2 linked regions of the Homo sapiens genome follow. The protein of the gene in region 2 interacts with the protein of the main gene of each other region in a pairwise test. Each region holds a gene or a part of one and is shown on either strand. Other genes may lie near its edges.

Evidence for each region.
Region 1: the proteins of TCP10L (region 2) and MXD4 interact in binary tests that used the Homo sapiens proteins (3 or more experiments, as listed by UniProt).

The regions. Positions count from the first base shown.
Region 1 is NC_000004.12:2,246,926-2,252,136, forward strand, and holds the end of MXD4 (max dimerization protein 4), read right to left. Parts: intron 4,322-5,211; coding exon 4,159-4,321; intron 3,777-4,158; coding exon 3,619-3,776; 3' UTR 507-3,618; downstream 1-506. UniProt on the Homo sapiens protein: Transcriptional repressor. Binds with MAX to form a sequence-specific DNA-binding protein complex which recognizes the core sequence 5'-CAC[GA]TG-3'.
Region 2 is NC_000021.9:32,575,506-32,582,538, forward strand, and holds part of TCP10L (T-complex protein 10A homolog 1), read right to left. Parts: intron 6,911-7,033; coding exon 6,695-6,910; intron 3,327-6,694; coding exon 3,189-3,326; intron 1,419-3,188; coding exon 1,269-1,418; 3' UTR 1-1,268. Other genes in the region: CFAP298-TCP10L (uncharacterized protein LOC110091775), read right to left, coding at 1,269-1,418, 3,189-3,326, 6,695-6,910. UniProt on the Homo sapiens protein: May be involved in transcriptional regulation. Has in vitro transcription inhibition activity. Acts as a tumor suppressor in hepatocellular carcinoma (HCC) cells.

The DNA of each region.
Region 1 (5,211 bases), on a different chromosome or scaffold from region 2:
TGACAGGAAGCAGAAGCCGTGCCCAGGTAGTTCTGGGAACAGGTACAGAGCGATTCTCACAGTGCAGCTCTGAGAGCCAGCAGCCTCTGTGCAGAGGGCTCCTGGCTGGCACGGAGCACCCCAGGGAGCGGGCTGTCCTCGGCCAGCAGGGCCCCAGCACAAGGGCCAGAGGCAAAGTCCCAGTGCCTCTGGGACAAGAGCAACAAGAGCATCCAGTTGGCCAACAGGCCCATGGGGGCGCCCACCTCAACCCCACCTTCACCCAGCTCCAGGCGCCACAGCATCCAGGGAGGCAGCTGTGACGGCGGGCCCGGTGTGGTTGGCGGCACGGGGTGCCGTGCTCCGTCAGGCCTCCCAGGAAAGAGGCTGTGGTAGGGCAACGAGGGCCACGGCCCGAAGGCCACATGGCGTGGTGCCATTGGGCCAGGCTTTCTGCTTGGAGGCCGAGGGCAGGGCGCGAAGCACGCTGACAGTGACAACCACAGAAAGAGCCGGAGCCAGCAGGGTGAGATATAAAAATCTGTATTTATATTACAATGACATAAGGACACAGCACGGCCCACACGGTGGACAGGTGGCCGGGGGCCCCTTTCCCCCTCTAGCGCACGCCCCCCTCACCGGCACCAGGCCCTCGTGTGGCCCCCGACTCTGGCACGGAACCTGCCCTAGTGCCCAACATGGACCTGGGGCCACCCTGCTGGCCGAGGGTCAGGGTCCTCTGTGCAGGCAGTGGGGAGGGGGTCCCAGGTTCCCTGACAGAGGGAGGCAGGGCACGGGGGAGCCTGCCTCACCCAGCGGACAGCACGGGCCGGGGCAGACAGAGCAGGGACCCTAGGGCCACAGACCGGTACAGGGTTCCACCACCCGGGGACACAGGCCCAAGCACCGTGCCACTAAGATGGGGTCTGCAGAGGCAAAGCCTTGCTGCAGCCTCTCCCACTCTGCGAGGATGGCGGGGGTCTGCTATGTGGTTTGCGGGGGTTATCCTGGTATGCGGGAGCTGCCTTCCAATAAGGCTGGGGAACCCAAGCCTGAGTCTGGGTGCTCAGTGGCCGAGAGCACTGGTGTGGGCTGGGAGGGCACACGCAGAGGCTCAGGAGCCCCGGGCTCTGTTCTGCTTCTGTCTGCTCTCTATAGACACGGTGATGGCCTCTTGGTCCCTGCAGCCTCCAGTGATGGCAGCCTGGGCCCCTGACAGGGAGCAGTGGGAGGTTGGAGCATGTGGTGACTCCTAGCACGGGCCCCCACCCAGTGGGCAACCCCTCACCCACCTGCTGATGGCAGGGAGGGGCAGCTGAACAGCACCCCGGGTGGCTGAGACTGCCTCCCAGTCCACGTGGGAACCACGGCCTCAAGAGCCACAGGCTGAGCTGCCGGGAGGGTGGGCTGAGGGGCCACCACTGGTCACCGGGTGGATTCTGCTGGTCAGAGATGAGAGCAGAAGCCCCTAGCTGCCTCAGGCACTGGAGGGTGGGGCAGGGAGCTGGTGCTTCAAGAATTGAGGGCAGGGACACGACCACCTCAGGGCCCTGCAGTGCTGGCTGGGGAAGCAAGCTTTTACACACGGCCCGCCTTGCTCGGAGGTGCCACGGTGTTTGAAATGAAGCCTGGGGGGACAGACTCAGGCAGGCAGGGGAAGCTCCTTTCTGGGCACCCCTGGACCCCAGTGGGGCCGGAAGGAGATGCAGACAGGCCTCCTCACAACCACCCGCAACGCGTTCGGATGCCCCTCAGCTCCAGGCACCATGCCCCCTACAGCCTGCAGGGCAGGTTCTGTGCCAGAGTTGTTTCCAGGGACCCCCTTCCGCCACAGTGGGCCCCCCATCCTGGGGCGTCTATGCGTACGACTGAAAATAGACACGAATTTTCCCCATGATATGGGAATTGGCTACAGATGTACCAGAGGCACGGCAGGCACTGCTATGGGCCAGCCCCAAGGACAGAGGACGTCAGGAAGGAAAGGCGGGTGCAAGCCTCCTGGTGCCAGGCCTGCACCACCCAGCGAGCACAGTCTTCATTGGCTGCCAGTGTCTGAAACCTGGAACCCTCGCCTAGGCCAGGAAGCAGGGGGCTCGAGTCAGGTGACAGGTGAGAATCCATCTCTCTAGTGAGCAAGCAGGCCCCTGCCAGCCACTGGGGAGGGCAACACTGGGGACCAGGTCACAGCCCCTCCGTGCCACCCACAGGGGCCTGGCTGCATCGCCTCCAGGAAGCCCTGGCTGCCGGGAGGGGCTGCCCACAGGAGATGGGAGGACAGCACTAGCTGGGCAGGCCTGGGGCACCCTGAGCCACGAGGGACATGCTGGTGGGAAGGGCAAGGCCTGACACAAGACACAAGGCACACTTTGACGACGTGACGGAGGGACAGGTCCCTGAGACGCTGGGTGGCTCCCACCCCTCAGCAAACAAGGACGCAACAACAGCTAGGAAAATAGAATACAAAAATCTGGTACAGGAAACAGAGGCGGCACACACGGACGTCCCTAGGCCGAGAGTCTTTAGGCTTTCTTCTTTTTAAAAATGGTTTTTTTTTTTTTTCTGGGAAAGCCTCTCTGCCAGCTGAAGCTGCCGCAGCAGAGCTCATGAGAAGCCCTTTCCTAAGGTGGCTCCAGGAGCCCTAACCGGGCTGCTGGGCAGTGCAGCATTTTACTTTTTTGCTTTTTGTTTAAAAAAGGGAGATGAGTAAGCCCCCGAGGACCCAGCGGCTGCAACTTAACCAGCCTCCAGTTCACCCCAGCCCCAGCCAGGAAGAGAAGCCCCTCTCCTGTGCAGACAGGCAGGACTACTGGGTGGGCGTGGGTGAGCAGGAGCTAGAGGGGGATCCAGGCACAGCCCAGGGGCTGTTTGCCAGATGACCCCTGAAGGCCATCATCCCCAGAACATGTGACCTCGGGACGCCCAGGTGTGTCTGCATGTGTGAGCATGTACATGAGTGGGTGTGTCTAGGTGCGTGCGCGTGTGCGTCTGACAGTCCTACCAGAGCAGACGCTGCCCAGCTCGGCGTGGGCTGGGCTGGCCTGCCTGGCCCCGAGAGCCCAGCCCTAGGTTCTGACACCTGCGAAGTGGGAAGGACCTTAACCACCCACCTGCCCCAGGTGCTCACCCAGTTCCCGCCCTTCACAGACCCCTTGTCCACGCCAGGAGCCTATGTGGACTGACAGGTAGGTGGACAGACGGACGGATGGACAGACAGCCTTGCCTTCCTTCCTTCCTCGGTCCACTCCTTTCTCCTGGGATCCAGGGTTGGGGTCTGAGCTCCCTGTGGTGGTCATTAAGCCCCTCACACGGCACCTGCCGAGGTTTGCAGCAATGACGTTTAATACTTCTGGAATGATTAGGAATCTGAGAACAGACCGTGGGCGGCTATGCTGACCAGGGCTCCGGATGTGGAAGCTGGGCCCTGCCTCCTTGCAGGGGACTCTGCCCAGCTGGAAGGGGCAGGCAGCTCGGCAGGCCCTGACCGGCAAGCGGGCAGTGCCAGGCAGCCCAGCAGCAGCTGGAGCTTCCAGAATGGCACAGCAGTGGGCCTGTGGAGAGGCTGGCGTCAACTGAAGGAGAACTGGAGGGCTGACACGCGTGGCTGGCGGGCAGGCAGGCCAAGGAGCAGAGGGCACGGGCCTACGAGAGGGCGGGGCGGCCCAGCCGCCGGCAGTGGGGCCCGAAGCCACTGTCGCCGCCGGTGCCACTCTGCAGGCTGTAGTGGTCGTCCGCGTCACTGCTGCTGCCAACACTGTCCAGCTCACCAGGGCCAAACTCCATGCCCTCTATGTCCACTTCTAGGGAGAATAGAGTGGGGATGGGGTCAGGCCACTCTGAGGGTGCCAGCCCATTTCTCCCTTTTCTGGAAGCAGAAGCTCTAGGCAGAGGGGCAGAAGTGCGGAGGGCGCTGTCTGGGCCCTGGGGCAGCAGACGCCAGGAGGGCTCTGGCTGAGAACCCGGCCTCAGAAGCACCAGTCCTCAGCGGGCCACACAGCCTCTGCATCCCACCCTCCCTGTCCAGTCCCTTCTGCGCTTAGTGACAAACACACACCCCAGTGCAGCAGGGAGCTGGGAGGGTTCTCCCCAGCCCCAGCACCAGGCACCTCCTCTCCACCCAGGGAGCTGCACCACTGCGCACCCGGAGGCCCAGGTGAGGCTGCCCCGCGCCCCACGCCCCACCTTGCTCTGAGTCGTCCGTGGAGACAGCAGAGCCCGTGCTATCTGTGCGCACGCGCTCCACGCTCTGCACCGACAGCTGCTCCAGGCGCCGCTTCAGGAAACGATGCTCCTGCTGCAGCTGCTCCTTGATGCTCAGTGCCCGGCGGTCCTGCTCCTCCAGTTTCTGGGGTCGAGGGGGGCTGTGAGCTCACAGCGGGAAGAGGAGTCCCCCCATCCCCCTGGCCAGGCACTGGGGCACCCAGGCCTGGGCCCGGGAGGTTCCCCATCCCTGCCAAGACCTAGCCAAGGCTACAGGCCACAGGGTGCCCAGTCTCTGCCAGCCCCACAGCCTGAGGTGGGTCCCTCCCTGCCCCAGCCAGGCGGTCACAGTCAGATGCCACCTCCCAGCCCTGTGGTTTCTGTCTACGGCCCAGCTCTAATACCCGCAGCCACCAGGCAGCCTTGGCCAAGTTGAGCCATGTGTGGCAGCGGGTCAGTGCTACCCAATCTTTGGCTGGCACCGTCTCCAGGACAGTCCTGCTTACAGCGGGTCTCCTCACACACTCCCAGCCCTGCCCGCCCCCATCGGGCTGTGGCCTATGCCATGCCTGTCCCTGCAACACCTGTGCCCTGCCCTCTCTAAACCTTCCTGTGGGCCCCACTGAGACACTGCTTGCTCTGTGAGGGCCCCCAGGGCTCTGGTTGTGCCCCTCTCAAAGCTCCTGACACCCCAGCCTGAAGGTGACCATGCCTATGCAGGCAGAAGAGGCCCTCAGAGCAGATAGAGATTTGCCCTGGTTGGTCCAAATGTCACAAGGCCCCCAAACCAACAGGGCTGTCAAAAGTCCTTTGGGGGGCGGTCCCAGGGAATGTCTCCCTGAGCCCAGACCCACTGCCAGCTCCCGCTGCCCCAACCCCACCCTGGCACCCCCATCAGGCTGCCTACTTTTAGTCTGCCTTCTGATGGCACCCAGGAAACCCTGGCCCCCTCTCTCCTTCCAGCAGCTGCCTCTTCACAGCCCAGGACCCCAGAGAGCAATCTGTCCCCCGACCTCCTCCTCTCCATCCCAGTCT
Region 2 (7,033 bases):
GAAGGAGTCCAGGTGCCAGGCAGCCCAGGGCGAGTGGTGCCCACAGGCTTGGGCTGTGCTGTGCATAAGGGCCACACCTGAAGCTCGGCCACACCTGAGGCTCGGCCACCACATAGGCCCCGTTTCTTTACCAAGATAGGTTCCTGCAGAGGTCGTGAAGCTGCTGTGGTCATTTGCTGGCAGCGACGTGAAGATAGAATTCTTTCCTGACTCAACCAGGGGCACTCTCGTCTCCTCCCCGTGAGACCCGCAATGCAGGAAGCACCCACAGCTGCATGGACAGAACTGGGGCCTGGGAAAGAGGCCAGGAAGGTGCCAGATGAGAGGGCGCTCCATCAGGGTGGCAGCAATGCCATGGGCTGGCAAATGGAGAAAGGGGAACAAAGCACCCAAGTGCATCTAGCCCCAGCCACACGCCTTCTGCTGGGAGTGTGCTCAGAGGGAAGTGACCGCTAGGATTCGGAATCTCCAGTCACGGCCCCTGGAGACCGGCATGTGGGCTGTGTGTGGGGTGGAGGGCTGGGGGTGTTGGCAAGTCTCACAGGTGAGGACCCAACGAGGGAATCAGACAAAAAGTGGCCACAAATTAGGCAGCTCCAGGAAGGACATGTCCTTGCCATAGTAAGATGTTCTGCTCACGCGTATCCACGAGAAAGCCCCGCATTTCACGGGGAGCATAGAAACAGGAGTCCCCAACTCTGCTCACCAGCTCCTCCGGCTGCTGCCATCTGCTCCTGCAGCATGGCGGCCTGGGAAGCCTGCACTGGTGATTTTCTGCCACTCAAGTTTTGCAGACTTCGGGAAGATGGATGCATAGCCTGGGGCAATGACAGTCACAGGCCCGCCTTGTCACAAGGTCCCTGGAGCGGGCAATGCCTTGAGCCCAAAGGCTGGGAGCACAAAGCCATCTTCAGCCATCCTCGATTTCCAGCAAGACCCCAGGGCTCACCCAACAGCCCGACACTCCATACTACAAGGTGGGTTAATTTTTTTAAAGACTCTGCAGAAATATACCAACTACAGAGCTCAGGAAAGCAACTGATTTATAAAACCCAATCCAAGTTGTTTGCTTTTATAGCATTAGAGACATGTCTGAAGAACTTCAAGTTTTTATCTATAGAAACATAATTAGTTTAATAAATTACTAGGTCTATTTTGAATAACAAATTGAGTACTTTTATTAGACCTAAGTGGAACTTTATCTGAATCTGAATTTTCCAAGGGGCCAGTGTAGAGTGACACAGGTGTCCGAGGCCACCTTTCCATCTTCAGACACCCCCCCGTCTCTCTGCACAGGGAGTTGGCCTTCCAGTAGGTGTTGCTCTTCTGTCTTGACGTCTCCTGGAAAGATTTTTATCTCTATTTTCCTGTGGTGGTGTTTTCCACGAGCTAATTCTTTCTATCTTTAAACTCATTGGCTGAAAACAAATGTGGGAATATTTTTGCATTAGTAACAATTATATTATTTTTAAATGTTAAGCAACACATCATACCAGCTATCACAGAATGTAGATGATTCTACTCCCCCTTCCTACAGAAGGACACATGAGGTATCCACACTTAGTGTCTCTCATTCCCCATTTTACAGCCCACGCTCTTGTGAAATTTGGGATTCCAATACATGGCTGATATTGTAAAGTCAACAGTGAAATAAAGTGCTTGAAACTCAATTCAAAAATGCATAATAAAAATAATTTTCTACATTTTGCACTATTTAACAATTGATGGTTTCAAGGCGTGGATAAGCCACCCATTCAGTTATCTATTTACTCGTACATTGCCCCGCATGCCTGTGATTAACTCAGGTCAATGATGGAGCATGAGAGAAGTCCGCGTCTCACAGGAGGCTGGGCCTGTGCAGTCCACCCTGGGACTTACGATGTTTTGTACTCATAGGATCTGAAAAGGCTCTTTTCCTACTTGTGACAAATGCTTGGAGTAGATTTCTGATCTTCCTTCAGGGAATAAAGTGTTATCTGCTCAGCAGTTGCTTTGGGAAAGAATGCGAGGGGATAAATCATCTTCAGGAGTTGGGGGCGCCTTCTCCATCCACATCAACCCAGTATCAGTTGCTGGCTGTGGACTCACGAGATTTGCTTCCTGAGTATGAGGGTGACACAAAGCTGGGACAGGAAGAGACACACTGGCTGGGAGAATGTTCTAAAGAGGAGCTAATTTTAACAAAGAAAAATGTGATAGAGACTGCCGAGACCAGCTCGGTCAGGAAGACCCTAACCCAGCAGTGCTAGAGGAATTAAAGACATACGCACGGAAGTATAGCATGTGGAGTGGGAAATCAGGGCACTCACAGCCTTCAGAGCTGAGAGCCGTGAACAGAGATTTACCCACATATTTATTGACAGCAAGCCAGTGATAAATTGTTTCTATAGATTATAGATTAACTAAAAGTATTCCTTATGGGAAACAAAGGGATGGGCCAAAACAAAGGGATGGGCTCTGGCTAGATATCCACAGCAGAAACATGTCCTTAAGGCACAGATCGCTCATGCTACTGTTTGTGGTTTAAGAACGCCTTTAAGCGGTTTTCCACCCTGGGTGGGCCAGGTGTTCCTTGCCATCATTCTGGTAAACCCACAACCTTCAGCGTGGGCATCATGGCCATCACGAACATGTCACAGTGCTGCAGAGATTTTGTTTGTGGCCAGTTTTGGGGCCAGTTTATGGCCAGATCTGGGGGCCTATTCCCAACAAGAGACAAAATAGCATCCTGTACTGTGGCTCCCAAGCTAACAGCGCCACCCCTGTTCAGAGGAGTCCACGCCGACAAGCAGCAGGTGCAAGACCGCAGTGCAGAAGCAGGGAGCACGGGAGGCTGCGAGCCCTCAGACTCACGGGTGGAGACAGTGCCACACACATCACCTCCGCAGCCTGCACCCACGGAAACAAAGCCCCCAAGTCCCCTCGGCCCCAGCCAGACGCTTGCTGCTGTGAGTGTACTCAGAGGGAAGCAGCCGGGAGGACTTGGAATCTGCTCCACAGCAAGAAGTGCTAAGGGTTAGGATCTTGTTTGAAAGGCATGTACCCGTGTCCTTGGAAGAACACAGGACTCCAGGGAGCACCATGCTCACCCAGGGAGGTGAAATTGTGTGGTGAGGAGCTGATGGGATGTGTGTGTTTGGGTACAGAACCTCTGCTTCTCTTTACAGATGATAAGCACAAAGGGTCACCTTTGGAGGAGCTGAATTGTTAGATGACGATCTTTGTCCCAGGAGAGTGGCACTCTGATTCTTGTGGCCAGCGTATTTGGGTATTGTCTCTTCATCAGCTGACAGAGGTGAAATTTTTCCAAAAGCAGGTTCCAATGCCTAAAAGACAAAATGCAGGGAAATTCTTCACATTTTCGAAGGTAAAATAAATTCAAATTTTAATACAATGAAGAATAATTGGAATGTCCTAGAAAAAAATAGGGTACAAGGTAGGGGGACTTGGACTGGGTTTTCCCCCTAATATGTTGATAAGAACAGAAACCCTCACCAAGCGTTTGTGAAGGAACCTTTGTGGAGCCGATGTTTGCTTTGTGTTTCTTATTGTGGTTCCTTGTTTCAAAATGATCACAGGATCCCAAAGGCTACAGAACAAACAATCCCCAACATATCTTCCTTTAGGCTCCTGTGTCTTCAACCGGGAGTGTGTTAACGGAGGAAGAAAATGTGATACTACTTCTAGTGTTGTCTCTACAACTTGTCTAAGATCCAAAATGCAAATTCCCAACTTTCCCTGTTATCAGCAGACTGACCTGGAACAGGGTGATCCTTCAGGTGGGATGAGGTATATTAGGTCTGGAATGCTAAATTATTCACCGTTCTGCCCTCTGAGGAGGAGAAGGGAATGAGAAGGGGAGAGGGTTGCTATGAACGAACCCTTAATATCAGATCCAGAGTGGCTCACCCACACAGCCATGCCCGCGTTCTGTGGGTGCTCGAGTCTCAGCCTTTTAGATATTCAGTCCCTAAAACGGCGACTACACACAGATACACCTTCGCATATTTAAAGTGTGGGATTCACATATCCCATCCTGTTTCTTCAAATCAGGTATGCTCTTGTGAGCGTACATCCTGTTCTTATAAATAGCCCCACGGTGACCAGTGCAATGCACAGAATGGAAAAATATTTGGAAATTCACCAAGCTCTAATCTCAAAATAAGAGAATGATCAAAACTGCAGGGCATGTGAAGACTGAATAAGACTTCATTGACTCTTAGGGTAATTGTTATACAATGACCCAAATGGGGCAGTAGATACTATTTTTTAGGAACTGGCATACAATATATGTAGGGAAAAAAATCCCTGTGAGTCTTCTTGGGTTCTCCCCACAGAAGGTGGACAATCCCGGCCAGTATTTGTGGCAATTTCCCCCACTCTTCCTCTGACAGAGGAACAGCCTGCCCAGCTTCTGCTCTTCCTTCCGCAGAAGGACTCGGCGCTTTGCTGTGCTGAGAGGCTAAACTCACTTTCTTTCTGAGGCAGCAGAAGCCATCTCCATGGAAACAAAGCTCTCGCAGAGCTCCCGAAGAGTGGGAATAACTTCCAAGATTTCCCGTAATTTCTTGTAGAGGAACTTGTGGCAGTTTTTTTTGTTTGTTTGTTTTGTTTTTTTCAGACGGAGTCTTGCTCTGTCCCCCAGGCTGGAGTGCAGTGGCGCGATCTCGGCTCACTGCAAGCTCCACCTCCCTGATTCAGGCCATTCTCCAGCCTCAGCCTCCCGAGTAGCTGGGACTATAGGCACCCGCCACCACACCTGGCTAATGTTTTTGTATTTTTAGTAGAGACGGGGTTTCACCGTGTTAGCCAGGATGGTCTCAATCTCCTGACCTCACGATCCACCTGCCTCGGCCTCCCAAAGTGCTGGGATTACAGGTGTGAGCCACCGCGCCCAGCTGTGGCTGTTTTTGCTGTGCTTGGAGAACAAACCACAGAGCAGTCTCCTCTGGAATGTATTCGGTGGGTGCCTGTGTGTGTGTGTGTGTGTGTGTGTGTGTGTGTGTGTGTGTTGTAATCACTGTGCTGTATCGGAAATATTCTAAGTCCTGGAAGTACCGATTTAAAAGTTCACACAATAAATGCAGCTAGGAAATGTTAGTACTTTTCTTAATCCACTAAGAAATATCCCCACTTACGTTTGGAGGGTGTTCATGTGGTTTCATGTGTTGTTACCTGTATGTATAATTTTAATGATTCAAGTTATTTAGATCCATATGCAGGAAACAGAACCCAGACAAGGCAGTGATAACACTGGCCACATTCACACTCTCTTAGGCTGGTTCTTTGAGCGGTGTGATCAAACGTGAAAGCTCAGTGTTCTGTAGAGGCAGGCTGGTGCTGGGAGGCACCCACTACTTCAGCATGAGAATGCTGGTTCTTCGTTCGGGATAGAGCAGGTTAGTGATACAGGATGGGGGCAGGAAAGTCCTGGGTGGAGAAGAACGGGGTCCCTGGCTAGGGCTCGACCCCTGGGCCTGTGCCCATGGACCTACGCATTTCTGCTTTTGTGCCCAAATGTTGCATTTCCCAAGACCACCGTGGCCTGCCACACTCCCATCCTATGCCTATAAAAACCCCAAGACCCTAGCGGGCAGAGACCAAGCGGCTGGATGTCGAGAAGAACACACCGGCAGAAGAGCACACCAGCAGACACAGCAGACGCCAGCAGGCCATCGACTGGCGGAATGACACGGAGTTTGCTTGGGGTGGTCAGGGGAGAGCCCGGTCACTGGGCAGCCCAACTCCCAAGGGGAAAACTGCCTTCCCACTCCATCTCCCTTCTGGCTCCCCCATCTGCTGACAGGTATCACCACTCAATAAAAAACCTTGCACCCATCCTCCAAGCCCATGTGTGATCTGATTTTTCAGGTACACCAAGGCAAGAACCCAGGATACAGAAAGCCCTCTGTCCTTGTGATAAGGCAGAGGGTCTAATTGAGCTGATAAACACAAGCTGCCTACGGAGGGGTAAACTGAAAGAGCTCCCGCACTGTAACACACACCCTCTGGGGCTTCAGCTGGAAACATTCACCCCCAGACACTGCCGTGGGGTCAGAGCCCCATAGCCTGCCGGTCTGTACACTCCCCTAGAGGTTTGAGCAGTGGGGAACCAAAGAAGCGAGCCACACCCCCATCGCACACCCTGCGAGGGGGACAAGGGAACTTTTCCCGTTTCAACAGGTCTCTATTGCATTCTACACAGCTGTCCTAGAGGATGAACAGAAGGACACCAGGCTACTGAGCTGGCTCTGGAGTCACCCTGGGTTCAAATCCCAGCTCTACGTTCTCCAGCCCGTGGCCACGATGGGGTTAGTAATAGGATCCATTTCATAGGGTCGTCATAGAGAGTAAGACCGTAAAGCTCCGTACCTAGCCCATGTAAAGTCCACAGTAAGGGTTTGCTGCTGTTGTCCTGAGACATCATGAGATGTCTTAGAATTCTGGACTTGAGACACACGGCCTGGGGGCGGCAATGCTTCTGTCTGCTGGAGTGCCAGGTGAGAGGCCTGATGTATCCAGTTCTTATTAATCATTACTTACGGGAAATGGAGTTGATGGAAAGATAGCAACCCCTCCCACCACCCGGAGCGTGAGTGATACCGCGTCATTCAGCAATAAAGCCCACATCTTTATGGGGACGCTATTTTTACATAACGCAAACGGTACAAAAACATAAATGCGCTTTTGGTACCAGAGTGTGCGATTCTTGCCCCGCGTGTGGGGACGCTGCAGATTTCTTCCTGGCTTTCCACCGCTGCAGCTGCAGAGCTCTCAGCTTTTCTCGGAGCTCCATGTTCTGCTCCCTCAAAGCATCTATATGACTCCGGAGTTTTCCATGAACATCAGCCCACAGAGACTTCTGTCTCCCAAGCTCTTGGTGGAGTCTGATGATCTGCTGCTGTAATGGCTGTTATTGGGAAGAGAACACCAGAAAAACCTCTCAGATGTCACAATGGGCACATTTATCTGCAAAATACTCAAGCCCTCTCTGATGTAAGACCAACACTATTTCTGGAATAAAAGACACCCG